7 separate regions of the Homo sapiens genome follow, and regions 2, 3, 4, 5, 6 and 7 are each linked to region 1. The links come from fine-mapping of genetic effects on gene expression. A gene starts in region 1. Each other region holds a variant in brackets. All regions are shown on one strand. Distances are from middle to middle. Region 1 holds the start of ZNF514 (zinc finger protein 514). Region 2 has its middle 30 kb from the start of ZNF892. Region 3 has its middle 120 kb from the start of TRIM43. Region 4 has its middle 3.6 kb from the start of MRPS5. Region 5 has its middle 400 kb from the start of AQP7B. Region 6 overlaps PROM2 (prominin 2). Region 7 overlaps MRPS5 (mitochondrial ribosomal protein S5).

What was found. PIP is the estimated chance that this variant, and not a neighbour inherited with it, causes the effect.
Region 2: its variant is fine-mapped to the expression of ZNF514 in whole blood (TOPMed, PIP above 0.99).
Region 3: its variant is fine-mapped to the expression of ZNF514 in whole blood (TOPMed, PIP above 0.99).
Region 4: its variant is fine-mapped to the expression of ZNF514 in whole blood (TOPMed, PIP above 0.99).
Region 5: its variant is fine-mapped to the expression of ZNF514 in whole blood (TOPMed, PIP above 0.99).
Region 6: its variant is fine-mapped to the expression of ZNF514 in whole blood (TOPMed, PIP above 0.99). The same link has a PIP of 0.9 or more in breast, sun-exposed skin, thyroid and tibial artery.
Region 7: its variant is fine-mapped to the expression of ZNF514 in lung (TOPMed, PIP above 0.99).

What each region holds. Positions count from the first base shown.
Region 1 is chr2:95,158,115-95,162,181 of GRCh38, forward strand. It overlaps ZNF514 (zinc finger protein 514), which reads right to left and starts at 1,734. Exons shown (of 5, transcript NM_032788.3): 1 at 1,126-1,734. RefSeq lists a silencer at 1,561-1,810.
Region 2 is chr2:95,235,972-95,240,035 of GRCh38, forward strand. It overlaps a transcript of ZNF892 not described here. Among named protein-coding and RNA genes, the nearest start is that of ZNF892, 30 kb to the left of the region's middle. RefSeq lists an enhancer at 4,017-4,064. The variant G/A (reference allele first, on the strand shown) is at 1,700.
Region 3 is chr2:95,705,828-95,709,894 of GRCh38, forward strand. No RefSeq gene overlaps it. Among named protein-coding and RNA genes, the nearest start is that of TRIM43, 120 kb to the left of the region's middle. The variant A/T (reference allele first, on the strand shown) is at 2,059.
Region 4 is chr2:95,123,375-95,127,441 of GRCh38, forward strand. It overlaps a transcript of ZNF514 not described here. Among named protein-coding and RNA genes, the nearest start is that of MRPS5, 3.6 kb to the left of the region's middle. The variant T/C (reference allele first, on the strand shown) is at 2,023.
Region 5 is chr2:94,185,507-94,189,573 of GRCh38, forward strand. No RefSeq gene overlaps it. Among named protein-coding and RNA genes, the nearest start is that of AQP7B, 400 kb to the right of the region's middle. The variant G/A (reference allele first, on the strand shown) is at 2,141.
Region 6 is chr2:95,281,573-95,285,639 of GRCh38, forward strand. It overlaps PROM2 (prominin 2), which reads left to right. Exons shown (of 24, transcript NM_001165978.3): 13 at 353-444; 14 at 570-654; 15 at 3,397-3,543; 16 at 4,067. Among named protein-coding and RNA genes, the nearest start is that of PROM2, 9.2 kb to the left of the region's middle. The variant T/A (reference allele first, on the strand shown) is at 2,557.
Region 7 is chr2:95,084,903-95,088,969 of GRCh38, forward strand. It overlaps MRPS5 (mitochondrial ribosomal protein S5), which reads right to left. Exons shown (of 12, transcript NM_031902.5): 12 at 467-2,679. The coding sequence ends at 2,455. Among named protein-coding and RNA genes, the nearest start is that of MRPS5, 35 kb to the right of the region's middle. RefSeq lists an enhancer at 2,551-3,116. The variant C/T (reference allele first, on the strand shown) is at 1,629.

The DNA.
Region 1 (4,067 bases):
TCAAGCTTCATGTGTGTGTGGATCCCTGAGGATCTTGTTAAACTCTGGCTCAAGACTTGCTAAGACACTGTTTGAGGATGTGTGGGGCCCCAGAGTCTGCAATTCTAGAGAACTTCTGGGCAATGCCTCTGCTGTTCCCAGAGCCACACTGATTAACAAGGGTATAAAGGAAAAAAGAGGGGGTGGGAAGCCCACGGACTGGGCCCAGTTCTTCCACTGGCCAGTTATGTGTCCTTGAGCATGTGCACTGAAGGATGAACAGTCGGATTAAAATGCCCACCTGGTTAGAGATAGGACGTTCTAAACTTAGGACTGGCTTAAAACCTCCTGGGTCACCTGGATTGCCCTGCCCCCAACGCTATTGGGGGAAGGGGCTCAGAGGAGATACCCACCATGTACACTGCTGACCTTATACACCGCTGAGCTAGAACGACTGGAAGAACCTTATTAGTGAGGTGATTAAGGAGGTGGATGACAAGGCTCCAAATGGCCCTATCGTCCTCTGATCCCTGGCCAAGGGCCACTCCCTCTTGGGTTTGCTTGCCCTCTCCCTGCCGCAGCAGGAAGAGATCAGATCCTCTTCTGCTCTCCTCTGGCCATTGGGACAATTTTCCATGGCCATCCCCTCCACCTCCGCCACGGTCATCTAGAGACCCCTGCCAGACCCAGGAGACTGCGGCTTCAGCCTTCTGGGTCTGGAAGGTTAGATGTCGCCACACGGAAGGCAGATGAAGTACAGCCTCACCCTTCAGTGGGATTCCCCGGCCTCTTCCTGGGGTCCTCCTGATATCGGGCTCGGTACTAGCTCCCCAAGAGGGCTCCTGGCCCTCTGCACGCTCCAGAGCCAAACCTGATGCTGTGGAGTCCATAGCTGGGGCTAAGGAGCGGCGTCCTTTCACTAGGTCCAAATCTCTGTCTTTCGGCCACAGCCCTGTGGTCCTCCCGAGGGTTCAGGGAGCGGGACGCAGGCTGGGGCTGCCTGGGGGACACGGGGCATCCCCACTAGGCGCGGCGGGGCCAGCGGACCTGCAGGGCCCAGAGCAGGGCCGGCAAACCCCGGTGCGCCCAGCGCGGCGCACTGCTGCCCGGGGTCGTGCTCTTCCCTCGCCAAGTCCGGCCTCCTACCCCCGGCTCGGCTCCTCCTCAGGACCAGGCTCTGGAACCCAGCTCCCACGTGGATCCACACGCACAGTGGGCTCAGACTACCAGGAGACACGGCCACAGCCACGCCCGCGACGCGAGGGCCCAGCGCTCTTCAGCTGCCCGGAAACAGCAGGGATTCGGTGAGAGCCTCACAGGAGCAGGGACCGACTCTATCAGCCCGGTTCGCCCCGCTGTCCCTGCCTAGCTCCGGCCTGCACAGTCCCTAGCGGGGGGCACTCGGAGGGACACACCCAGCTCTGTAAGGGGCCGGGGCGCGGGCCCAGTACAGGTCTGCGCGCCCGCAGTCTCCGAACGCTCACAGGACCAGGCCCCGCCCGCCACCCCGCGCCAGCCCCCGCCCGCCACCCCGCGCCAGCCCCCGCCCGCCACCCCGCGCCAGCCCCCGCCCGCCACCCCGCGCCAGCCCCCGCGTCCGCCCCGCGCCAGCCCCCGCGTCCGCCCCGCGCCAGCCCCCGCGTCCGCCCCGCGCCAGCCCCGCCTCCCGAGGCCGTCCCGAGCTTGCGCAGACGCGGCCGCCGCCGGGGCCCTTCAGAGCCAGCGCCGGTGGCGGGGTGCTGGCGCGGCGAAGCTGGAGAGGCGGGGCTCGCGGGCGCCTGTAGGACCTCCGCTGGGAGGGGCCGTGCTCGCCGGCCACGCGCCGGTTTTCACTCCGCTCTCCCCCAAGGGCAGGGACCTACAAGCATTTCCCTTCTCGCGCGTGACTTTGGTAGCTGAGCCTCATATCTCTCTCGTTTTTTGGGGGGAGGGGGGAGACAGCCTCACTCTGTCGCCCAGGTGGGAGTGCAGGGGCGCGCTCTCGGCTCACCGCAACCTGTCTTCTGGGTACAAGTAATTCTCGTGTCTCAGCCTCCGTAGGAGCTGGGATTACAGGTTCCCGCCACCACGCCCAGCTAATTTGTTGTATTTTTAGTGGAGACGGGGTTTCACTATGTTAGCCACGCTGGTCTCGAATTCTGACCTCAGATGATCCTCCCGCCTCAGCCTCCCAAAGTGCTGTGATTACAGGTGTGAGCCACCGCCCCCAACCTGCATATCTCGATGTAAGGCTATTCAACAGAAGCCGCGTTCCTACCCTGGATCTGCTGAGTGAGGATTTCCAGGAGGCTCTCCTGGCGTGCCTAGGGGATACTGGGGACTCAGTGCTAGATACTGCTTCTACAGGCTGCCCCGTGCCTCTTGCCTTTCTCCATCTGCCCCTGAATTCAGCGAAGGGTGCTGAAGAACAAAAGAGGACTTTGAACGCCCTCCTACTCCAGAAACAAATATCATTTAGGACCCAAAAGAAATGGAAAAACGGCCTGCTATGGTCTGAATGTATGTGTCCCCCTCAAATTCATATGTTGAAACCTAACTCCCAAGGTGATAGTATTAAGAAGTGGAGCCTTTGGAAGACTCTGCCCTCATGAATGAGATTAGTGCCCTTTAAAAACAGCCCTTAGACCGGTCGTGGTGGCTCACATCTGTAATCCCAGCACTTTGGGAGGCCAAGGCGGGCGGATCACTTGAGGTCAGAAGTTTGAGACCAGCCTGGCCAACATGGTGAAACCCTGTCTCTACCAAAAATATATTTAAAAATTAGCTGGGCGTGGTGGTGCACGCCTGTAATCCTAGCTACTCAGGAGGCTGAGACAGGAGAATTGCTTGAACCCGGGAGGCAGAGGTTGTGAGCCAAGATCGTGCCACTGCACTCCAGCCTGGGCGACAGAGCAAGACTCCGTCTCAAAAAATAAATTAAATAAATAAATAAAAATAAAAACGGGCCTTAAGCCCCCTTTGCTCCTCCTGCCATGTGAGGACACAGAAGGTGCCATCTATGAGAAACGTACCCTCACCAGCCCCTGAACTGGCTGGCACGTTGATATTGCATTTCCCAGCATCCAGAACTGTGAACAACAAATTTGTGTTGTTTACAAATTCCCCAGTTTAAGACACTCTGTTATAGCAGCGCCAATGCCTAAGACACAGTCTGAGTATTAAAACGGTGGTTTTCTGGAGGCAGTCCTCAGCCAGAGAAGGGCCACTTGTGAGGACAGAGAGATTGGTTTATCAACCCTATTTAGGAGTTCAGGACAAAATAACTTACAAAATCAAGGCAAAGACAAAATAACACGAAATCAAGGCAAAGAGACCATTCTCCTTTCCTGCTTTTGCAGTCTCTGTTTCACTTTTCTGCCAGCACTTCCAGTGGCACAGATGGCCAGGATGGCGCAGCAAGCAAGCCCTTTTCCACGCAGGGGGACATTGTCTGGGAACCATGGCTGATATAGGAGCTTTTCCATCTTCGGTGCTCCGAACCAAAAAGGTGAGGGGATGGACAAATGAGAAAAGATTTTCATCTCATTGATGGCTCAACAGAACTAGAAATGGAACTACTTCAGAAGAACTTGAGGGCCACTGCCTTTCCCTGATGCCCATTCTGTAGGCCTGCTGCAGTGTCTGAAATTCCCCACTCTTACATTGTGTCCTTTGGGACAGATCTTGATCCAGAGGCCCTTGTTTGTTACAATGCACATTCATTACCCCAGGAATATTCTCTCTCCTGCTCAGTGCTCTAGTGCACCATTTGATCTCAAAGCACTGTTGGTGGGGCTCCAGTCCTCACCAGCCTATACACTCTCCATCACCTTCAATATTCCTTTTACTGCTCCTTTGCAGTCAAATGCCTCTTCCACCCCAACCCGTGACCACTGCTCTGTTACCTTCCCTATAGTTTTGCCTTTTCCTGAATGTCACATAAATGGAATCATACAGTTTGTAAATTTTTAAGACTGGCGGCCGGGCGCAGTGGCTCACACCTGTCTCTACTAAACCCCGTCTCTACTAAAAATACAAAAATTAGCCGCGTGTGGTGGCGTGCGCCTGTAATCCCAGCTACCTAGGAGGCTGAGGCACGAAAATCTCTG
Region 2 (4,064 bases), 78 kb after region 1:
ATTTTCATCAGAGATCTCCTGAACTGCTTGGGCCCACTAGGAAGTAGCCTTCTTTATTCACCTGGAAGGCAGGGGACTCTGTGGGCAAGGAGTCAGGCTGGTTTAGTCAGGGGGCTTTACTGATTCCACGAAGTCACCTCTAGTTCCTTAAATCTGTCTGGTCATATCTGAAAATAGGACATTCCAGTCAAAGCCTTGGCAATATAGTTAATGTTTTCAAATTGTGTCTTGTTTTAGATTCTTGTTGAACCTATGCAAACAACTATATTGCCATAAAAATAAGAATACTCAAAGTTTCCAGAATTCTGGAGGAATCAAGTAGGAAGTAAAGGAGAAATGTCTCAACGTTATTTACAAAGGTATAATTTACCAGACTGCTGTAAGGTATAGATAGCTTAAGAGAAAAGAGAAAAGAGTTTCCTTAAATATGGTAAACAAGACATTAAAGAATCACCAATGTTTTAAACAGTTATAAAAACTACAATCATCTTCTTTGGTTCATTTAGTTCCATGTAATTAATTCTCGTTCTGCTCTATCTTGGATTAGCAGTTTTCTGAATCCATCCATTTTTTTCATTAGAGCTGTGGAAATTTTTACCACATTCAGTGGTATGATCTGAACATTGTCAGGAGCCTGTATCATTGCATAGTACTTGTCAGAGTCTTTCCATGAATCTCTTTGAAGATGAAACACTTTTGTCTGTAGCTGGTTGTAAGAGCTTTCAGGAAAGCATCAGAGTATAACAACTGTCTGTGATAGACAAAACAAACAAACAAAAAATAACAACCTTCTAGAATAGTCATGATTGAGGATATGGTGAGAGTTTACTATAATAGAGTTGGCAAGAAAATTTTATTATTTCTGTGGAATACAATACCTTAAGATACATAGAATTATGACTGATTATATGGACACTAAGGGCATTGAAAAATTTCTAGGAATTTCACATACAGGCATATGTCATTTTTATTGCACTTTGATTCTTTATTACACTTTGCAGATATTGTGTTTCTTACAAATGGAAGGTTTGTGGCCACCCTGCATGGGCACAATTTATCCAACAGCATGTGCTCCCTTCGTGTCTCTGTGTCACATCTTGGTAATTCTCACAATATTTTAAACTTTGTCACCATTGTTGGATCTGTTATGGTCATCTATGATCAGTGAGCTTTTTTTTTTTTTTTTTTATTTTGAGACTAGAGTCTCCCTCAGTCACCCAGGCTGGAGTGCAGTGGCGCGATCACGGCTCACTGCAACCTCCACCTCCTGGGTTCAAGTGATTCTCCTGCCTCAGTCTCCCGAGTAGCTGGGACTACAGGTGCCCACCACCATGCCTGGCTAATTTTTGTACGTTTAGTAGAGACAGAGTTTCACCATGTTGGCCAGGCTGGTCTTGAACTCCAATCAGTGATCTTTAATGCTATTATTGTAGCTGTTTGGGAGCACCATGAACCGCCATTAAGATGGTGAACTTAATTGATAAATGTGTGTTCTGACTGTTCCTCTGACCAGACACTCCCCTCCCCACCTTCCTAGGGCCTCCCTATTTCCCTGAGACACAACAGTATTGAAATTAGGCCAATCAATAACCCTACAATGGCCTCTAAGTGTTCAAGAGAAAGGAAGAGTCACATGTTTCTCATTTTAAATCAAAAGCTAGAAATGATCAAGCTTAGTGAGGAAGGCATGTCCAAAGCC[G/A]AGACAGGCTGAAAGCTAGGCCTGTTGCACCAAACAGTTAGCGAAGTTGTGAATGCAAAGGAAAAGTTTTTGAAGAAAATTAAATGTGCTACTCTAGTGAACATTGAAATGATAACAAAGCAACACAGCCTTATTGCTGACATGGAGAAAGTTTGAGTGGTCTGGATAGAAGATCAAGCCAGCTGCAATATTCCTTTAAGCCGAAGCCTAATCCAGAGCAAACCTTGAATTCTATGAAGGCTTAGAGTGGTAAGGAAGCTGTAGAAGAAAAGTTTGAAGCTACCAGAGGTTGGTTCCTGAGGTTTAAGGAAAGAAGCCAGCTCCATCACATAAATTAAGTGCAAGATGAAAGCAGCCAGTGCTGACAGAGAAAATGCAGCAAGTTATCCAGGATATTTAAGATCATTGATGAAGGGGGCTACACGCAACAACAGATTTGCAATGTAGACAAAACAGCTTTTTATTGGAAGAAGATGCCATCTAGGACTTTCATAGCTAGAGAGAAGTCAATGTGTGGCTTCAAAACTTCATGGGACAGCCTGACTCTCTTGTTAGGGCTAATGCAGCTGGTGACTTTAAATTGAAGCCAGTGCTCATTTGTCATTCTGAAAATCCTAGGGCCCTTAAGCATTGTGTGAAATCTACTCTGTCTGTGCTCTATAAATGGAACAACAAAGCCTGAATGACAGCACATCTGTTTATAGCATGGTTTACTGAGTATTTTAAGCCCAGGGCTGAGACCTACTGCTTAGAAAAATGTTACTGCTCATTGACAGTGCACCTAAACACCTCAGAGCTCTGATAGAGATGCACAAGGAGATTAATATTTTCATGCCTGCAAATACAACATCCACTCTGAAGCCCATGGATCAAGGAGTGATTTCAACTTTCAAGCCTTACTATTATTTAAGAAACACATTTCGTAAGGCTATAGCTGCCACAGTAATTCCTCTGATGGATCTGAACAAAGTAAATTGAAAGCCTCTGGAAAGGAGTCACCATTCTAGATGCCATCAAGAACATTCGTGATTCATGAGAGGAGATCAAATATCCACATTACTGGGAGTTTGGAAGAAGCTGATTTCAGCTCTCATGGATGACTTTGCAGGGTTCAAGCCTTCAGTGAAGGAAGTAATTGATGATATGGCAGAGAGAGAAAGAGAACTAGAATTAGAAGTGGAGCCTGGGCCAGGCGCGGTGGCTCACGCCTGTAATCCCAGCACTTTGGGAGGCAGAGGTGGGTGGATCACCTGAGCTCAGGAGTTCGAGACCAGCCTGGCCAACATGGTAAAACCCCGTCTCTACTAAAAATACAAAAATTAGCAGGGCGTGGTGGCGCGTGCCTGTAATCCCAGCTACTCAGGAGGCTGAGGCAGGAGAATCGCTTGAACCCAGGAGGTGGAGGTTGCAGTGAGCCGAGATCACACCACTGCACTCCAGCCTGGGTGACAAGAGCAAAACTCCGTCTCAAAGGAAAAAAAAAAAAAAAAAAGTGGAGCCTGAAGATGTGACTGAATTGGAATTGTTGCCAATCTCATGGTAAAGCCTGAACAGACAGTTGCTTCTTGTGGATGAGCAAAGGAAGTAGCTTCTTGAGATGGAATCTACTACTCCTGGTGAAGATGCTGTGAACACTGTTGAAATGACAACAAAGGATTTAGAATGTTACATAAACTTAGTTGACAAAGCTGCAGCAGGGTTTAAGAGGAGGGACTCCAATTTTGAATGAAGTTCTACTGTGAGTAAAACACTATCAGACAGCATGCTACACAGATATTTTGTGAAAGAAAGAGCCAATTGATGTGGCAAACTTCACTGTTGTCTTATTTTAAGAAATTGTCACAGCCACCCCAACCTTCAGAAACCACCGACCTGATTAGTCAGCAGCCATCATCATTGAGGCAAGACCCTCCACCAGCAAAAAGATAGTTTTTTGTTTTTTTTTTTAGATGGAGTCTCACTCTGTCGCCCAGGCTGGAGCACGTCTAGCTCTGTCACCCAGGCTGGAGTGCGATAGTGCAATCTTGGCTCACTGCAACCTCAGCCTCCTGGGTTCAAGCAATTCTCCTGCCTCAGCCTCCCTAGTAGCTGGGATTACAGGCATCTGCCACCACACCCAGCTACTTTTTTTGTATTTTTAGTAGAAACAGGGTTTCACTATGTTGGCCAGGCTTGTCTTGAACTCCTGACCTCAGGTGATCCACCCACCTCGGCCTCCCAAAGTACTGGGATTACGGGTATGAGCCACTGTGTCTGACCTACGGGATAGTTTAAACATAACTTATATGCACTAGGAAACAAAAAATTTGTGTCACTTGCTTTATTGCAATATTTAACATATCAAATAAGCTTAAGTAGTCTAGTA
Region 3 (4,067 bases), 550 kb after region 1:
TTCTCTGTTTCATAACATCTCTTCCCGTCATTATTGCCAGAACCCTGGTTTAGGCCTTCACACCATGTTTCATTAGCCTCCTAACCTGATTTCTCATGGACAGTTTCAATGTCATGTTGACTCATCATGCCCCTTCTCCACAACAGATTTTACAAAGCCTTCCTTTGCCAACCCTTATGGGAGAGCTTTACAGCCCTTTTAGTAAAAGGACTTGTCTTCAGCCAAACACATTCACTAACATTGAGGTTTCTTAATTTTTGTAGCAACTCTCACCACTGTGCTTATACATGTGTGAAATTCTGGGCTCAGCACTCCCGAGAAACCTTCTTAGATCACCCCCTTCCACCAAGTCCCCTTTCTTTCCTATGGGTTTCTGTGCAGGCACGTCATTCTTTGGTAACATCCTGCCTGGCATGACCATCATCCTGATTCATGTACGTCTTATACCTTGTACCCTGTGTCTGGCTGCACAAAACTCCTGCTCCTGCTCTGAATCACCTACTGTTTCTCTGATGCACTGTGACATTCATTAAATTCAGTGGGATTAATGGATGGAGTATTGTTTCTCAGGACACAGGAGAAGGTTGGGGTTGGCCTCCTTTAAATTAGTGCAGACTTAGGCTATCTTCCTTGTTGCTCTTGATGTTGCCAGACCAACTCTCTATTTGTCATTGACCCCTTTTCTAAACAATGCGCTCAATTTTCCCAGCTCGCCTTAGTTCCTAATTTCTCTCAACAATCCACTTATCCTGGTTCCCTTTTGGGACATGGTCTTGATTCATATCTTACTGAGCTCTCTGGGACACAGTATAATAGGCTATAGTCATAGAGTCAGGAAAAGGGACAAGAAATCAGAAAATTGTATTCCTTTTATAGCACTGGAAAAGTCACTTACCTTCTTTGACTCTCCATTGTCTTCCATGATAAACTATAAATAGTAATATTTCCCCTCTCAGGATTGGTGTGTGATCCAATGAGATAATGAACATGGAAAACCTTTGCACACCATGAAGCACTATGTGAGGGGTATTATCAGCCCTCCTTCTCTTTACCTTCAGATATCGCTCTCTACCCACAAAGTGCTTCCTTTACCTTTCATCTCACCTGTGGCCTCCATCTGACTCTGGCTGCAGCAACTTCAGTCTTTCCCTCTTCGTGCATTCTTTCCTCTCTATTGACAATCCTTTCCCTGCCTTACTCACTATCCCCACTTTCCTAGCATATAAACAACCTCTTACTTGATCCTTCTGTGTGTTCCACCTCCCACCAGCCACTGTCTTCTTCCCTTTCCTTTTGTAAACAGAGAGGACAACAAGTAGTCCCTCCTGCTGGCTCATTGCCTACTCTTTCCATAGCTCCTGCATTTCTTCCCAATGACTCTCCCTAAGCCAGCAGATCTGTTTAAGTTCTCAGTTCTTATCCTCCTTAAACTCATTGTTTCGTCTTCTTTTCTGATTCAGTATCACCCCATCCTTTTACAGTGGGCTTGTCTCCAGGCCTAGTCTTCTTGCCATCTGCTCTGCCCCGACACAGGGAACCATCATGCACTGCATTCTCTTATTTTACTCCATTCAGATTGAGTCATACTGGGAGTACTGTGTTTACTTCTAGGTTTCACCTTCAGTGAGAATTATGACCAACTCAGGGATATTCAATAAGGAGGACCAAGATGGTAAGGGCACTAGAATTATCTTCTCTTATGGAACACTTGATAGAATGGATGTATTTAACCTACAGAAGAGAAAATTCAGAGGAAATGTACACTTTGCTGTCTTAACACATTTGAAAAGATGCAAAAAATTTTTTGTTTACTGATTTGAATTCCTACAGAAAATGGAATTAGACAGAAATTACAGACAGGTAGATATGGAATCACTAGCAAGCAATACATGCCAGGCTTGTGAAGGCTCTGCCATCAGATGACATGGGTTCAAATCCCAGATCGACCACTTCTGTATGACCTTGAGCAAGCTATATCATTTCTCTGTGCCTTCATTTTGTCATCTGCAAAACGAGGATAGATAATTATAGTGCCTACCTTATAGTGTTATTTTGAGG[A/T]TTAAATAAGACAGTGCATGTACAGCCTAGAAGAATGCCCAGCGCAAGGAGACTGCTCAATACATGTTAGTTGTCCCCTTCTCCTGCTCCTCTTTGTATCATCATCATCATCATCATCATCATCATCATTATCATCATCGTCATCATCACCACCCGCATTTAGAGCTGTCCAGGAATGGAGCCAACTCTTCACAAAGCAGTAGACTTCATGTTTCTAGAAGAACACTCAACCCAAATGGTACTGGGGACATAGCAGAAGTGTCTGCTTTGGCGAGGTAGGTAGGACTGGATGCCATCAAAGGTCCCTTTCTGTGTTTGCTCTTCACCACCACTGTCCCTGAGCATCTCCCATTCTGGGTTCTCTGGGTCTATCAGTGGTGGTGCAATGCTGTCTGGCACTCAGGCCTAAATCATCCCTTTAGTTCCTTGGCTCCCTCTTACACATTTCACCTGGCAGACATAGAGGCTTCCTGAGGGCAGGCCCTTACAAAAGGAATCCATGTCCATAAGCCTCCATTCCCACACAGAGTCTCATGCCTCCTCACATCACTAATGCCAGTATCTTTGTCCCTGCCCTCCTAATATTTGGCTATCCTGTGGAATCAATTTGGCATCTAGCTTAAACCAATTTCTTTTTTTCTTTTTTTTTTTTTTTTTTTTTGAGATGGAGTTTCACTTTGTCGCCCAGGCTGGAGTGCAGTGGCGCGATCTGGGCTCACTGCAAGTTCCGCCTCCCGGGTTCACACCATTCTCCTGCCTCAGCCTTCCGAGTAGCTAGGACTACAGGCGCCCGCCACTACGCCCGGCTAATTTTTTTGTATTTTTAGTAGAGACGGGGTTTCACCGTGTTAGCCAGGATGGCCTCAATCTCCTGACCTCGTGATCCGCCTGCCTCGGCCTCCCAAAGTGCTGGGATTACAGGTGTGAGCAACCACGCCCTGCTGCTTAAACCAATTTCTAAATCTGTTTCCTTGATAGAATTCCGGACCTTGGATCCACCCACTTTCTCCCCAAGCTGGCTCCAGCTTTGTACAAGCATCTCTCACCAAGATCATCAAACTAAAGGCTCAAGCCAAAACACGCATCTTTTTAGTCCTCAATCACAGGGTCTGTGATTCTTTTATTGCTGAGTCTCCTGCATCCATCTGATCATTTCTATTTCCTTTGTTCCCACCTTTACCCAAGCCATAATCTTCCCTGCTCTATTTCATAATTCATAAAAAACTCTTGGCTGGGTGCGGTGGCTCACTCCTGTAATCCCAGCACTTTGGGAGGCCGAGGCGGGCAGATCACGAGGTCAGGAGATCAAGACCATCCTGACTAACATGGACAAACCCCGTTTCTACTAAAAATACAAAAAATTAGCTGGGCATGGTGGTGGGCGCCTGTAGTCCCAGCTACTCGGGAGGCTGAGGCAGGAGAATGGCCTGAACCCGGGAGGCAGAGCTTGCAGTGAGCCGAGATCGTGCCACTACACTCCAGCTTGGGTGACAGGGCAAGATTACTTCTCAAAAAAAAAAAAAAAAAAACCACTCTTATACTCAGCTTCTTCTCTCCAACACCATCCATTTCTCCCTTCTTCAAACATTTTAGTGCTTCTATAGCCAATGATAGAGTTCGAACACCTTAAGTTGAACCCAAAATCCTTCACATTCTGGCCAATTTTCTTCTATAGCTTTCTTGAAGTATAATTTTATGCAATAACTTTCATCCATTTTAAATATACTGTTTGGTGAGTGTGAGAATATGAACACAGCTGTGCAACTTTCACCACAATCAGGATTAGTTCATTTCTATTACTTCCCTGTGTCCTCAGGAACAAATAATGTTCCCATTGTTTCAATCCACTTCCTGCCATCTGTTGTCCCATACAGCCACTAGTCTGCTTTCTGTCACTACAGTTTTTCATTTTCTAGAATTTCATATAAATAGAATCTAACAGTATACAGTTTTTTATGTCTGGCTCTTTTACTTAGCATGATGCCTTTGAGATTAATCTATGTTGTTGC
Region 4 (4,067 bases), 35 kb before region 1:
GAAAAAGTATAGATCTATACTTCTAACCAGGCAAAATGAACAACCAGGCACATTACTCTTATCTTCTTCCCACTGGGAGGATTTCCCTTCACCGCCGTCCTTCAGAAGCATCCCAGAGTGGGATTGCAGTACTGCAGCTGTCCACTTTCAGGTGATACCAACAGATCATGCAGAACCATGAGTAAACCAAGCCCAAGAGTTTTCTTCTTCAGGCAACTGGTCACAGGTAATTCCTCATGAAGCTGTGGGTAGGGGTTGAGAGAGAGAAGATCATGTAGCTTGCATGTTCAGGTCCTGCTCCAGTTCAGTTTCATATGTACCACTTCCATTCGATGATGGAGTGTTGCTGTGCACACACAACTTTATGGCTTGGTGATCATACAACAGCCAGTTCATGATGAGCAGCTTAAACTGCATGGTAAGTTGCTGGTCAATGGTCAAGCCTCCAGACTCTGTTAAGGCCCAAAGCAAGTTTTGATTACTTAGTCGTTTGTTTCTAACTTTTAAATTTGAAATAATTACAGATTCAAAGATACAGATAGGAAGTTGCAAAAATAGTACAGAGAGGTCCCATGTATCCTTTACTCAGTTTCCCCAAATGGTACATCTTACATAACTATAGTACAACATCAAAACCAGGAAGCTGACATCGGTACAATCCATAGATTTTATGAGTTTTACATACACTCATTTGTGTATGTGTGTGTAGTTCTATGCAGTTGTGTCACATGTAGATTTCTGTATCCAGCACCACAATCGAGATACAGAACTGTTCTATCTCCAAGATCACCTGTGCATCTCCCTTCGAGTCAAACCCACCCCCTCTTTTATCCTCTCCTCCACCATCTTTAACCTTTGGCAACCACTAATCTGTTTCTCATCTCTATAATTTTATCATTTTAAGAACATTATATAAATGGAATCAGATAATACATGATCTCATGACTGGCTTTTTTTCACTCAGCATAATACCCTTGACGTCTATCCAAGTAGTTCCATGTACCAATAGTTTCTTCCTTTACATTGCTGAGTAGTATTCCATGGCACTAACATTTGTTTAACCATTCACCCATTGTAGGACATTTAGTTTGTCTCATATTATTATTTTTATTTTTATTTTCCTTTTCCTTTTCTTTTTTTCCTTAAGACAGAGTCTCGCTCTGTCACCCAGGCTGGAGTGCAGTGGCATAGTCTCAGCTCACTGCAACCTCCGTCTCCTGGGTTCAGGCGATTCTCGTGCCTCAGTCTCCTGATTAGCTGGGATTACAGGCGTGTCCCATTACACTCAGCTAATTTTTTGTATTTTTAGTAGAGACGGGGTTCCACCATGTTGGCCAGGCTGGTCTCAAACTCCTGGCCTTTAAGCAATCCACCCACCTCAGCCTCCCAAAATGCTGGGATTACAGGCGTGAGCCACTGCACCCAGGCTGTCTTCAGTTATTAACTATTTCAAACAAAGCTGCCATCAACATTCATGTATGTGATTTTTTGATATTTAGAAATTTTATTTTATTTTTATTTTTTTGAGACAGAGTCTCACTCTGTCGCCCAGGCTGGAGTGCAATAGCGCGATCTCGGCTCACTGCAAACTCCCCCTCCCAGGTTCAAGCGATTCTCCTGCCTCACCCTCCTGAGTAGCTAGGTAGAGGCCTGTGCCACCATGCCCAGCTAATTTTTGTATTTTTGTAGAGACAGCATTTCACCATGTTGCCCAGGCTGGTCTCAAACTCCTGACCTCAAGCGATCCGCCCACCTCAGACTCCCAAAGTGCTGGGATTACAGGCATGAGCCACTGTGCCCAGCCAGAAATTTTAAAATTGTGGTAAAATACACATAACATAAAAATTGCCATCCTTTTTTTTTTTTTTTTTTGAGACGGAGTCTCGCGTCGCGTCTCGCTCTGTCGCCCAGGCTGGAGTATAGTGGCATGATCTCAGCTCACTGCAACCTCCGCCTCCTGGGTTCAAGCGATTCTCCTGCCTCAGCCTCCTGAGTAGCTGGGACTACAGGCGCCCACCACCA[T/C]GCCCAGCTAATTTTTGTATTTTTAGTAGAGACAGGTTTCACCATGTTAGCCAGGATGGTCTCGATCTCTTGACCTTGTGATTCACCCACCTTGGCCTCCCAAAGTGCTGGGATTATAGGCGTGAGCCACCACACCTGGACCATCTTAATCATTTTTAAGTGTACAATTCAGTGGCATTAAGTACATTCACGTTGTTGTGCTACCATCACCACCATCTATCCACAGAAGTCTTTTATCTTTCAAAACTGAAACTGCAGCCATTAAACAATAACTCCCCATTCCCCTCTCCCTTCATGTAAGTGCAGTTATATAGTATTGTCCTTTTGTGACTGGCTTATTTCACTTAGCATGTTGTTCTCAAGGTTCATCCAGGTATAGCGTGTGCCAGAATGTCCTTACTTTTAATATTATGAATAATATTCCATTGTATGAATAGATCATATTTTATTATCCATTCATCTGTCAATGGACACTTGGGTTGCTTTCACCTTTTGGCTATTGTGAATAATGCTGCTGTGAACATGAGTGTGCAGATAATCTCTTCAAATCTCTGCTTTCAATTATTTTGAAATATATCCATCATGTACATGATTTTGTGTGGCTATAAGTTTTAATTTGGGGGGATAAATGTCAAGCTGTGAGATTATTAGATTGTGTGGTAAGTATATGTTTAGTTTTTAAAGAAACTGCCAGCCGGGCATGGTGGCTCACGCCTGTAATCCCAGCACTTTGGGAGGCCAAGGTGGGTGGATCATCTGAGGTCAGGAGTTAGAAACCAGCCTGGCTAACATGGTGAAACCCCATCTCTACTAAAAATACAAAAATTAGCCAGGTGTAGTGGCGCACACTTGTAATCCCAGCTACTCAGGAGGCTGAGGCAGGAGAATCACCTGAACCCAGGAGGTAGAGGTTTCAGTGAGCCGAGATTGAGCCATTGCACTCCAGCCTGGGCAACAAGAGTGAAACTCCATCTCAAAAAAAAAAAAAAAAAAAAAAAAGAAAGAAAGAAAGAAAGGAAGAAAAAAAGAAAGAAACTGCCAAACTACTTTCCAAAGTGGCCATTCCATTTTATATTCCTGCCAGCAATATGTGAAAGATCTAGTTTCTCTGTATCCTCACTAACATTCAGTGTTATCCCCATTTTTTTTAGCTGCTCTCATAGGTATGGTGACATATCATCATGGTTTTAATTTACATTTCCCTAATAGCTAATGATGTTGAATTTCTTTTCATGTGCTTCTAGAATTGCCATCTGTATACCCTCTTGAGTAAAATGTCTTTTGCTCATTTTCTAGTTGGATTGTTTGGTTTCTTTCACTGCTGTGTTTTGAGAATTCTTTGTATATTCTACATGTGAGCCCATTTTCTTTTTTTTTCTTTTCTTTTTTCTTGGAAACAGGATCTTGCTGTATCGCCCAGGCTGAGTGTACTGGCACTATCATAACTCAATGCAGCCTCACACTCCTGGCCTCAAGCAATCCTCCTGCCTTGGCCTCCCATAGCTACAGGAATAACCACGGGATGGGTTCTGGGACCTATTGCGCCCACCGTGAGACAGACCTGACCTAAAACTCCACCAATCACCTGATCTCTTTATGCCTCTGCTCTGACAGGTCACTGTGACATTTCGGGTCTCCAGGAATTGGTGTCAGCTCAGAGGCAGTGTTGAGTAATCCTTAAAACATCTGGATATTTCTCTGTCCTTGATGCATAGTCACCCTGGTAAATGGCTACAAGTACCTTTGGGGAAGGCTGAAAGGAAGATTAGCTGTACGTTTTTGGTAGTGTACCAATGCCTTTCCTGAGAGGGGACCCAGCCTGCCCTTCACTCGAGGGACTCTGGATCTGTGAATTCACTCAAGTCTGGGAATTGATTGAGGAGACATGACTCCCTCTTTTGGTGATTCAAGTCAGACTTCTGTTCACTAGGCCTAGATCTTTTCTGCCTATACAAATCCAGTAAGACTTCAGTAGGTTCTCCATCTCTTTTATTTCCAGAAACACCAAAGGTCAACACCAAAGGTCCTAGTGAGCCTGGCCATTC
Region 5 (4,067 bases), 970 kb before region 1:
AGTCACAGAGTTGAACATTCCATTTCATGGAGAAGGTTTGAAAAACTCTTTTTGTGGAATCTGGAAGTGGACATTTGGATCGCATTCAGGCCAATGGTGAGAAAGGGAATATCCTCGAATAAATACTTGAGAGAAGCATTCTCATAAACTAGTTTGTGATGTGTGTGCTCAGCTAACAGTGCTGAACCTTTCTTTTCATAGAGTAGTTTTGAAACACTCTTTTTGTCGAATCTGCATGTGGATATTTGGAAAGCTTTGAGGATTTCATTGGAAATGGGAATATCTTCATATAAAATCTATGCAGAAGCATTCTCAGAAATATCTTTGGCGTGTTAGCATTCAAGTCACAGAGTTGAACATTCCGTTTCATGGAGCAGGTTTGAAACACTCTTTTTGTGGAATCTGGAAGTGGACATTTGGATCGTTTTGAGGCCTGTGGTGAAAAAGGGAATATCTTTGCATAAAAACTAGACACAAGTATTCTCATAAACTAGTTTGTGATGTGTTTGCTCAACTAACAGAGTTGAACCTTTCTTTTGATACAGCAGTATTGAAACACTCTTTTTGTAGAATTTGCATGTGGATATTTGGACAGCTTTGAGGATTTCGTTGGAAACGGGAAAATCTTCATATGAAATAGAGACACAAGCATTCTCAGAAACCTCTTTGGGATGTTAGCATTCGAGTCACAGAGTTGAACATTCCCTTTCATAGAGCAGATTTGAAGCACTCTTTTTGTAGTATCTGGAAGTGGACATTTTGATCGCTTTGAGGCGTAAGGTGAAAAAGGAAATATCTTGCCACAAAAACTACACAGAAGCATTCTCAGAAACTACGTTGTGATGTGTTTACTCAGCTAACAGAGTTGAACCTTTCTTTTGATAGAACAGTTTTGAAACACTCTTTTTGTAGAATCTGCAGGTGGATATTTGGATACCTTTGAGGATTTCCTAGGAAAAGGGAATATCTTCATATAAAATCTAGACAGAAGCATTCGCAGAATCACCTTTTTGATGTTTGCATGGAAGTCAGAGAGTTGAACATTCCCTTTCATAGAGCAGCTTTGAAACACTCTTTTTGTAGTATCTGGAAATGGACATTTAGATCTCTTTGAGGTCTATGGTGAAAAAGGAAATATCTTCGCCTAAAAACTAGACGGAAACAGTCTTCAAAACTTGTTTGGAATGTGTGTACTCAACTAACACAGTTGAATCTTTCTTCTCATAGAGTAGTTTTGAAACACTCTTTTTGTAGAATCTGCAAGTGGATATTTGGATAGCTTAGAGGATTTCGTTGGAAACGGGAATATGTCCATAGAAAACCTAGACAGAAGCATTCTCAGAAAAATCTCTGTGAGGATTGCATTCAAGTCCCAGAGTTGAACATTCCCTTTCATAGAGCAGGTGTGAACACGAGATTTTGTAGTATATGGAACTGGACGTTTGGAGTGCTTTGTGACCTATTGTGAAAAAGGAAATATCTTCCCATATAAACTAGGCAGTAGCACTCTCAGAAACCAGTTTGTGATGTGTGTAGTCAACTAACAGGGTTGAACCTTTCTTTTGAGAGAGCACTCTTGAAACAGTCTTTTTGTAGACTCTGCAAGGGGATATTTGGATAGCTTTGAGGACTTTGTTGGAAAGGGGAATACCTTCATATAAAATCTAGACAGAAGCATTCTCAGAAACATCCTTGGGATGTTTGCATTCAAGTCACAGAGTTGAACATTCCCTTTCATGGAGCAGTTTTGAAACACTCTTTTTGTGGAATCTGGAAGTGGACATTTGGATCGCATTGAGGCCTAAGGTGAAAAAGGGAATATCTTCGAATAAAAACTAGACAGAAGCGTTCTCATAAACTAGTTTGTGATGTGTGTGCTTAACTAACAGAGCTGAACCTTTCTTTTCATAGAGCTGTTTTGAAACACTCTTTTTGTAGAATCTGCATGTGGATATTTGGAAAGCTTTGAGGATTTCGTTGGAAATGGGAATATCTTCATATAAAATCTATGCAGAAGCATTCTCAGAAATATCTTTGGCGTGTTATCATTCAAGTCACAGAGTTGAACATTCCGTTTCATGGAGAAGGTTTGAAACACTCTTTTTGTGGAATCTGGAAGTGGACATTTGGATCGCTTTGA[G/A]GCCTGTGGTGAAAAAGGGAATATCTTTGCATAAAAACTAGACACAAGTATTCTCATAAACTAGTTTGTGATGTGTTTGCTCAACTAACAGAGTTGAACCTTTCTTTTGATACAGCAGTTTTGAAACACTCTTTTTGTACAATTTGCATGTGGATATTTGGACCGCTTTGAGGATTTCGTTGGAAACGGGAAAATCTTCATATGAAATCGAGACACAAGCATTCTCAGAAACCTCTTTCGGATGTTAGCATTCGAGTCACAGAGTTGAACATTCCCTTTCATAGAGCAGGTTTGAAACACTCTTTTTGCAAAGTCTGCAAGGAGATATATGGATAGCTTTGAGGATTTCGTTGGAAACGGGAATATCTTCATATAAAACCTAGACAGAAGCATTCTGAGAAACATCTTTGGGGTGGTAGCATTCAAGTCACTGAGTTGAACGTTCCTTTTCATAGAGCAGGTTTGAAACACTCTTTTTGTGGAATCTGGAAGTGGACATTTGGATCGCTTCGAGGCCTGTGGTGAAAAAGGGTATATCTTCACATAAATACTAGACAGAGGCATTCTCATAAACTAGTTTGTGATGTGTTTGCTCAAATAACAGAGTTGAACCTTTCTTTTGATAGAGCGGTTTTGAAACACTCTTTTTGTAGAATTTGCATGTGGATATTTGGGCAGCTTTGAGGATTTCGTTGGAAATGGGAAAATCTTCATATGAAATCGAGACACAAGCATTCTCAGAAACCTCTTTGGGATGTTAGCATTCGAGTCACAGAGTTGAACAGTCTCTTTCACAGAGCAGGTTTGAAGCACTTTTTTGTAGTATCTGGAAGTGGACATTTTGATCGCTTTGAGGTGTAAGGTGAAAAACGAAATATCTTGCCACAAAAACTACACAGAAGCATTCTCGGAAACTACGTTGTGATGTGTTTACTCAACTAACAGAGTTGAACCTTTCTTTTGATAGAGCAGTTTTGAAACACTCTTTTTGTAGAATCTGCAGGTGGATATTTGGATAGCTTTGAGGATTTCCTTGGAAAAGGGAATATCTTCATAGAAAATCTAGACAGAAGCATTCGCAGAATCACCTTTGTGATGTTTGCATGGAAGTCAGAGAGTTGTACAATCCCTTTCATAGAGCAGCTTTGAAACACTCTTTTTGTAGTATCTGGAAATGGACATTTAGATCTCTTTGAGGTCTATGGTGAAAAAGGGAATATCTTCGCCTAAAATCTAGACGGAAGCAGTTTTCAAAACTTGTTTGGAATGTGCGTACTCAACTAACAGAGTTGAATCTTTCTTTTGATAGAGCAGTTTTGAAGCACTCTTTTTGTAGAATCTGCAAGTGGATATTTGGATAGCTTAGAGGATTTCGTTGGAAACGGGAATATGTCCATATAAAACCTAGACAGAAGCATTCTCAGAAAAATCTCTGTGAGGATTGCATTCAAGTCCCAAATTTGAACATTCCCTTTCATAGAGCTCGTTTGAAACACTCTTTTTGTAGTATCTGGAAGTGCACATTTGGAGCGCATTGAGGTCTATGGTGAAAAAGGAAATATCTTCCCATAAAAAGAAGACAGAAGCATTCTCAGAAACTTGTTTAGGATGTGTGCACTCAACTAACAGAGTTGAAACTTTCTTTTGATAGAGCAGAACACTAAATTGAAGTTTAAAATAATTGTAACAATTCCATCTTATATAGCAGGTCAGATTTCATAGTTTGGTTCAAGTAGTTTTCAAGTGACAAATTTTCAAGGTTTTTAGTTTTCAAGAGTTGTGCAACTTCGTCAGCCAGAAATCAAGCAAAAGGCTAGATAAGTAGCAGCAGGTGCGGGATTCTTGATATTGAAACTTTTAGGACTTTTCTCCTTAGGGATTCCAATGTTGTACATTTTATTTCCAGTATAACCCCTATGCATAGGAT
Region 6 (4,067 bases), 120 kb after region 1:
CCAGGCCCCAGGGCAGGGACCCTGAGAGATGGCACCCTGACCCATTCCCTCTCATCTCCTAACACTGTCTGGGAGCTGGGACCCTGGTGCCCGGTGAGCTGCGATGCTGGACTGGGTTCTCTGCAGAAGATCGGGCTGGGCAACCCTCCTAGGGATTCATGGGAAGAGCCCCTGTAAGGATTTGGGGCCCAGGGGTCACCAGAGTTAGAGGCCAGGTGTGAGCTGGGGTGAGGGGATGTTTCCTACCCCTGGTCTGTGCTGTGCCACAGCAGCACAGGGCCAGGCCCTAGGGGACCAGGGTGGCCTTGCCCCCACCCCGCTCTGTGCCCATTTCTCACTGCCCCATCCCCAGTTTGCAGACACCCCAGGGAACCTGCCCCCGTCCATGAACCTGTCGCAACTTCTTGGCCTGAGGAAGAACATCAGCATCCACCAAGCCTATCAGTGAGTGGACAGCCTGGGCAGAGCTGGGACCGGGGAAGGAAGGAGGAGGGCCGGTGTCCCTCAGGGGACATCAGCCCCCCCGCCACCCCCAAGGCTCATCGTCTGCACCCCTCACTCCTCCTCAGGCAGTGCAAGGAAGGGGCAGCGCTCTGGACAGTCCTGCAGCTCAACGACTCCTACGACCTGGAGGAGCACCTGGATATCAACCAGGTGAGAGAACGTTTTGGAAACTGTGAGGAGCCCTCCTCAGATCCCCCTCCTCTGGTCTTTTTGCCTCTGTGGAGGCACCGTCTCTTTGAACCTAGGAGACCTGAGAAGTCTGTGTGAGCGATTAAGGTGCCCAAGGGCAGAGGCCCAGTTATCAGCTCTGGGGAAGGTTCCGGGTGTGTAGGTGGGTCCGTGTGCACCTGAAGGCTATGTCCAGCCCCAAGCACAGCCAAGGTGGCAGCAGGAAAGGCTGGTGACAGTGAGCAGGAGGATGAGGGGGCCCATGTGTCCTGACTGAGGACAGGCATTGGCTGGGATGCTCCACTTGGGAGGGGGAGGCTGGGGAAGGACGTGGCAGTGACAAGGATGGTGGTGAGTCTGGCTAACGTTGGTGGAGGGCCTGCCAAGCTCACGCAGGTGGGAGGTGGTGGTGGCAGGATTCCATCCCCAGCCTGACAAGCCTCTTCCTGTAACCTCTGGAGTTACTGGAACTTGGTGTGTAGAACTGGAGACACTTGCCAATGCTGGAAAGAGACAGTTCTAGAATGAAGGCAAGGAAGGGCTGTTTCACAAGAGGGATGGACTTTGAGAATGGGGCTCTCCTCATGGTGCACAGCAGCTGGAAGACATTCACTCCTCGACTTCCACGCTCCTAAGCATATGCTGGGGAAACCCACATCCCCTGGCCCTGGTTCCCCTCGCCCTCCCCAAACACAGAGCATGCTAACTCCTGATTTTGCATCGTTCTGGGAAACCCTTCCAACCCCTGGATCCACCAACCAGCCTCGGCCCACGGACAGCACAGCCGGATGGCCCAGCCCCAACTCTGTACCTTGAACTGCACAACCTGGGACAGTTATGCAGCTCACTCCTCCTTCCGCATCTTTAACCAGACAGGAGCTCCCCGAGCAGGCGATATCTCAGTGCTAGGCTGAGACACTGCCCTGTGGAGGAAGCCTGGCCAGGGAGGGATGAACCAGGGGCCTGGGCAGAGGAGCCCCCATCCTCTACTGGCAGGAAGCCATGGCTCTCGAGGGGAGGAGTCCTGGGCTCTGGTCCTTGGCAGGGGAGGGTCCAGCTCACAGGAGAGTCTGGATAGATAGGGCTTTGGATTCAGATGCACTGGGCAGTCCTCTGAGGCCACCTGACAATGTACCAAATGTGGCTGTAAGAATCCTCGTCCTCAAAGGAGACACTGATGGGTAGGCAGACATGAGTAACACACAGGGCTTTCCAGAGCACGGGGAGGGCACCAGCCACCTTTCCACTTCTCCTGAAGCTGCTGCCACTGATGCCTGAGACACGGCCCGAAGGCCCCCACCCGAGAGGGCCAGGCCTTTTCTCCTCCAGGAGAAGGCAGCCTGGAGGGATGCGGGGAGGAGAGCCAAGCTGGGCTGCAGTCTCTAACCACCTGTGTAACCTCGGCAAGTGGACGCTCCACTCTGACCTCAGTTTCTTATCTGTTAAACACTGGGCTGACTTTTATGACCTCTAAATCTCTTCCAGTGATAGTAGGAAAATGCTAAGGCTCTTTCCTGAAAATACAGTTTCATTCATTCATTCATTCATTCATTCATTCATTCATTCACACAGCTAACAAACTTGTCTCCTGCCCACCATGTGTGACCCTCCGAGTTAGATGCTGGGGGTTTGGGGCTGAATAGGCAGGCAAAGTCCCACTCTTGTGGAGCTGACAGCATTGAACAATTAACCCACAAATAAGATCATTTCAGAGCAACAAGTGCTTTGAAGGCCTCGACACAGCTGATGGGATAAAGAGCGGCTGAGAGAGCTATTTTATTTCAGGTGGCCAGGGAAGGTCTGTGTCTCTGCCCAGAAGCCAGATGGGCACTGGAGGAAGGCCAGGTCTTGGCATTTGGGGCAGGGGCCTACTGGGAGCCTGTC[T/A]GGGGCTTGGGGTGTCCAGGGCAGGGGGCCCTGAGGGCCTGCTGTGTGAGTCTGTTCTTGTGTTGCTATAAAGGAATACCTGAGGCTGGGGCATGGTGGCTCATGCCTGTAATCCCAGTACTTTGGGAAGCTGAGGTGGAAGGATTACTTGAGCCTAGGAGTTCAAGAACAGCCTGGGCAACATGGGGAGACCCTCCTCTACAATTTTTTTTAAAAGCCAGGTGTGGTTTCTTGCACCTGTAGTCCCAGCTACTCGAGAGGCTGAGGTGGTAGAATCACTGGAGCCCGGGGGATCTAGGCTTCAGTGAGCTGTGATTGTGCTATTGCCCTCCAGCCTGGGCAACAGAGCAAGACCCTGTCCGCTTCCCCAACCAAAAAAAAAAAAGCAATACCTGAGGCTGCATAATTTATAAAGAAAAGAGGTTTAAGTGCAGGCTGTACAGGAAGCATGGCACCGGCAGCCGTTTCTGGGGAGGCCTCAGGAAGCTTCCACTCATGGCCGAAGGCCAAGGGGAGCCAGCACATCACATAGGGAGAGAGGGAACGAGAGAGCCAACGCAGAGGTGCCACACTCTTTCAAACACGTGAAATAACTGAGCAAAACTCACTCATCACATGGCAATGGCACTAAGCCATACGTGAGGGATCCGCCCCCGTGATCTAGTACCTCCCACCAGGCCCACCTTCACCCCCAACACCGGGGATCACATTGCAACATGAAATTTGGAGGGGACAAATATCCAAACCATATCGCCTGGTGACCCCTGTGCTTAGGGGAGCATCTCTGGGGTCCTGGCTCAGCAACTGGGCATGACTCCCACCCTGCGCCTGCTCTCCCAGTATACCAACAAGCTACGGCAGGAGTTGCAGAGCCTGAAAGTAGACACACAGAGCCTGGACCTGCTGAGCTCAGCCGCCCGCCGGGACCTGGAGGCCCTGCAGAGCAGTGGGCTTCAGCGCATCCACTACCCCGACTTCCTCGTTCAGGTCAGCGGTGGGCACCTCAGCAGGGCTTCCTCAGCAGGTGGTGATGGAACGAAGGGGCCCACAGAGGAGCTGGGTGTGCATCTTGCCTTGTCCCAGCTCTGGCTCTTCCACATTTCCTGGGGCCTCTTCCTGTGGAGGTGTCCCCAGATCATGTGCCCCTGGGCCTGTCCTCCTGCCACCACCCCGGTCACACAGGAATGGACAACCTCTCCCCCAACCCAACAGCATGTGTTGCTGTTCATGGTCCTGAACCCACTGCTGCCGAGGACGCATTGGGAAGTTGCCTCTTCCTTAGTTACACCAGAGGGTGCCTTATTTGTTCTTGTTGTTTCTATCTCACTGGGAAAATGTCTGAAATATTTCACAGTTCCAGGGAAAACTCACTGTGACTGATGTGTCACAATACACTTAGCTGGTGTAGGTTATATTTGATAAGACTGGGGATTTGGAGGCTGGGATCAGGTGGTGGTGGGCCCCAGGGGAGCTGGGTTCATCCCTCCTGGCCTCTTCTGTCCACCTGCAGA
Region 7 (4,067 bases), 73 kb before region 1:
AGCTTTGTTCTGGAACACAATTAAGTTACTTTGAAACAGTTGTGTTCCAGTTTGGTCTTGTTTTTAAGCTTTCTGAGTTGGGACCAGGGGTAGTTTTTATGTAGAGTTAATTTTTCTACTACTAGGGCATCTTAGTTCTCTTCCAATGCCACCTAGATTACAAGGTTTTCCACTGTGACTGTTGATAACAGGCACTATTTTCCACTCCAAACACTGTTCCCTCTAATTCTTTTGGGTGAGTTTCCTCACCGGCATGCACTATTAGTGTGTAACTAAATATCTGATGGAAACTCTCTGCAGATCTTAGTTCTCCTGCTGTGCAACTCTCTCCTCCAAGGCATTCTCCCCTGTGAACTCTAGTCATTTCGACTGCCCAACTGCACCTCAACTCCAGGAGACCGCCAGGTCCTGATGGGGTAACCCTTCCTAGAACCACGGACTCTCCGCAGATAGTAAGTACAGATAATTTTGTTTCCCCTCTCCAAAGGATCATTGTCTTTTATTGCTTAAAGTTCATTGTCTTTATATTTGTTAGGTACTTAAGAAGGAAAACTAACAGGACAGATAAGTTTTAGGAAATAACTACCTTACTCTAGCAAAATACCACACACAAAAAAAGGGGACCCACCCACACCAGACAACGTCACAGGCTGAAAACTTTCACCATCCAGCCTAACATGGCCTGCTCCCTATCCCACGGTGCCATTAGGGTGCTCCTCCTACTTCCAGCAGAAAGGCCTCAGCAGAGGTCCCGAGGACAGCGACAGGAGGAAACCTGGATCTCCATCCTCACCAGGCAGTAACGAGGCAGTGCCCCATCCCATACCAGCACCGTCAGAGGAAGCATGCTGAGAGATTTAAATAACTCCCAGAGCTTCATAACAGTGAAGATGACCAGGATACAGCCAAAGTCACTCATCATAACAAGAACTAGGACATTGTAAACTTGAATGAGAAAAAACCTCAAGGGATGTCAACACTAAGATGACACAGATGTTGAAACTTTATGACAATTTTTTTTTTTTTTTTGGAGACAAGGTCTCACTCTGCCACCCAGGCTGGAGTGGCATGAACAAGGCTCACTGCAGCCTCAACCTCCTGCAATCAAATGATCCTCCCACTTCAGCCTCCTATGTAGCTGGGACTACAGGCATACACCACCATGTGTGTCTAACTTTTAAATTTACTTTTACTTTTTGTAGAGATGAGGTCTCACTTTGTTGCCTAGGCTGATCTCAAACTCCTGGGCTGAAGCAATCCTCCTGCCTCACCTTCACAAAGTGCTGGGGTTATAGGCGTGAGCCACCACACCTACCTGATGACAAAGATTTTAAAGCAGCCACCATAAAAATGCTTCAGTGAGCAATTATAAACACTCTTGAAGCCATTTAAAGAAAAAAAAAGTCTCAGCAAATAGCCTCAGCAAATAAAGAGAAGACATAAAAAATAAACCAAATGGAAATTTTAACTGAAATATACAATGACAGTCAAAGTTAAAGTACTGCATGGATGGTTCAAGAGCAGAATGGAAAGGAAAGAGTAAATAACCAGTTATTCTGAAGATAAAACAATAGAAATTACCTAAACTGAGCAACACAGAGAAAACAGACTGGAAAAAAAATAAACAG[C/T]GCCTCAGGGACTCACGGGACAATAGTAAAAGATTCAACATTTTGGTCATCAGTGTCCCAGAAAGAGGATGTGGGTGGGGCAGAAAGAGTATGCAAAGAAATAAAAATATATATATTCCACAGAATGGGTAAAAACTTCTGTAAAGCATGTATGATAGGGGGGCTTATATCTAGAAACTATAAGGAACTCAATAATAATAAAAAATAACTTTTTAAATGGGCAAAGGCTCTGAATAGACATTTCTCCAAAAAACATATACAAATGGCCAATCAGCACATGAAAAGATGTTCAACATCATCAGCCATCAGGGAAATACAAGTCAAAATTGCAATGGTATACAATTAATATACCATTTAACATTCCCAATAGTAGCCTACAACTTCCATTTCCACTGTGGAAAACGGTTTGGAAGTTCCTCACGGTAGTCAAGTTACTTAACTGCTCTGTAAAATGAAGTTAATCACATTCACTTTGGATGAATGAGTTCATATATATTAGCTATAATTACTACAGCAATTATCATTGTGTACATTATTACTGATTGGGTCAAATTATTAACCCCGTCTCCCTAATTCATTTACTTTTGTTACTTTGGATGAATATTTAAAGTAGTCTTGAACTGAGATATGTATGTAAAGGTTCTATCACATTGGCATATAACATGTGCTCAACAAATGAAAGCTATAATTATTTATTTCCAAAGAGTTTAAAGATTAAACTTCCCTCAAAACAAACAAAAGGCAAGGTAACATCCCAAGCTGTGAGGGGCTGAGTCTCTCCTAGGTGCAGGGCAGCACAGGAACTGGCTGCACAAGGCCAGAGAGGTTACGTGGCGGCTCTCTTCAAATTAGACCACACAGAGCGCTTCATTCCCTGTGCAGTCTTCACATCTTCCCAGTCCAGTTTGACGTCTGGAACCTCATCTTCTGGCTCTGGATCCTTCCTCAAGGGCCCCCGGGGGGACGCAACCACAATGGGCAGAGGGCCACATTCCTCCCGGATTTCCACAACATGGAGGCCCTTCTTATCAGCCAGCTGTTGATGGGTTTCCTAAGCAAGACCAAATTCAGAACAGGTTAGGTCTGAAGTACATTTGCAACATAAAGAGCAGGAACTTCCACAGGCCACAACAGTACAGCCTGGGGGTATTCAAAGGCCATTTCAGTGGATTTGGGTTAATGTGTTTTGTGGCTAAACTCTAATAACCTGTCATGGGTGGAGTCATTTCAGCCTCATCTGCTGCATCTGCCCACCCCAAACTTGGATAGAGGAAGGGCCTTGGCCTCTGGTCTCTTGCCTTCTAAACCCTCCTGATTATGCACCATGCTGTGCCAAACACTGAACTTGAATCTCACCAACCCCCTAGATCTAACTACCAATTTACAGTAAATATAGGGGAGATAAGACACTAAGGACCCTACAGGTATTTTAGTCAGCAACAGGCCAGGAAGCACTACAAAACAAACAACCTGGTTTCCTCAACAAAAAATCATAAGCGGGGCGGGGGTGGGGGAAGAGGAGGGGAACCTATTTAAAAGGCATAGCAAAAACATACATTAACCTGTTCTGCAACCTGATTCAAACACATTGTGTAAAAAAAAAAAAAATTTTTTTTAATCTAACAAATGGAATTTGCTCATTTGTATGAACATTGATTGGATATTTGATGATACAAGTTACTGTTAACTTTTTAGGTATGATAATAGTATTACAGGGTATTTTTTAAAATCCTCATCTTTTCGAAGATACATACTAAAATATTTAGGGTTGAAATAAAATGTCTGAGATTTGGTTCAAAATAACTGGGGGTGTACTAAGAAGCAAGACTGGTCATGAGCTGGGTAACAGGGCCATGGGGATTCACTGCAGAGGGAAGCCACAGAGATCTGGAAGCAGGCAGATTAGTTCAGTAGACGTTATTCATGGTACAATGACATACCTGCTATGTCAATCCCGTGATCCCAGGCCTTATGGCTGCCTTGCACTATTCTAATTATATATCTAATGCCCTGCAGTATGTGTGAAATTAGAAAACAGATGAGCCATTTCATAAACAAAATAATTTATATTGGTGTATCTTTCAATCAAAGGCATATCACCTAAAGTGGTGGCATCTTTTCCTTTTTGAGTGACATATTAAATAATGCAACCTTTTATAGCTGATGGCATTTTAGGAGAGATGACATATGGTAACTATATCAGAAGGTTTAAAAGACTAAAAGAAAACAAAGATATCACATAAAAGAACAAGTCTAGGCTGGGCGCGGTGGCTCACGCCTGTAATCCCAGCACTTTGGGAGGCCAAGGCGGGTGGATCACGAGGTCAGGAGTTCAAGACCAGCCTGACCAACATGGTGAAACCCCATCTCTATTAAAAATACAAAAATTAGCCGGGCATGGTGGCACGTGCCTGTAGTCCCAGCTACTCAGGAGGCTGA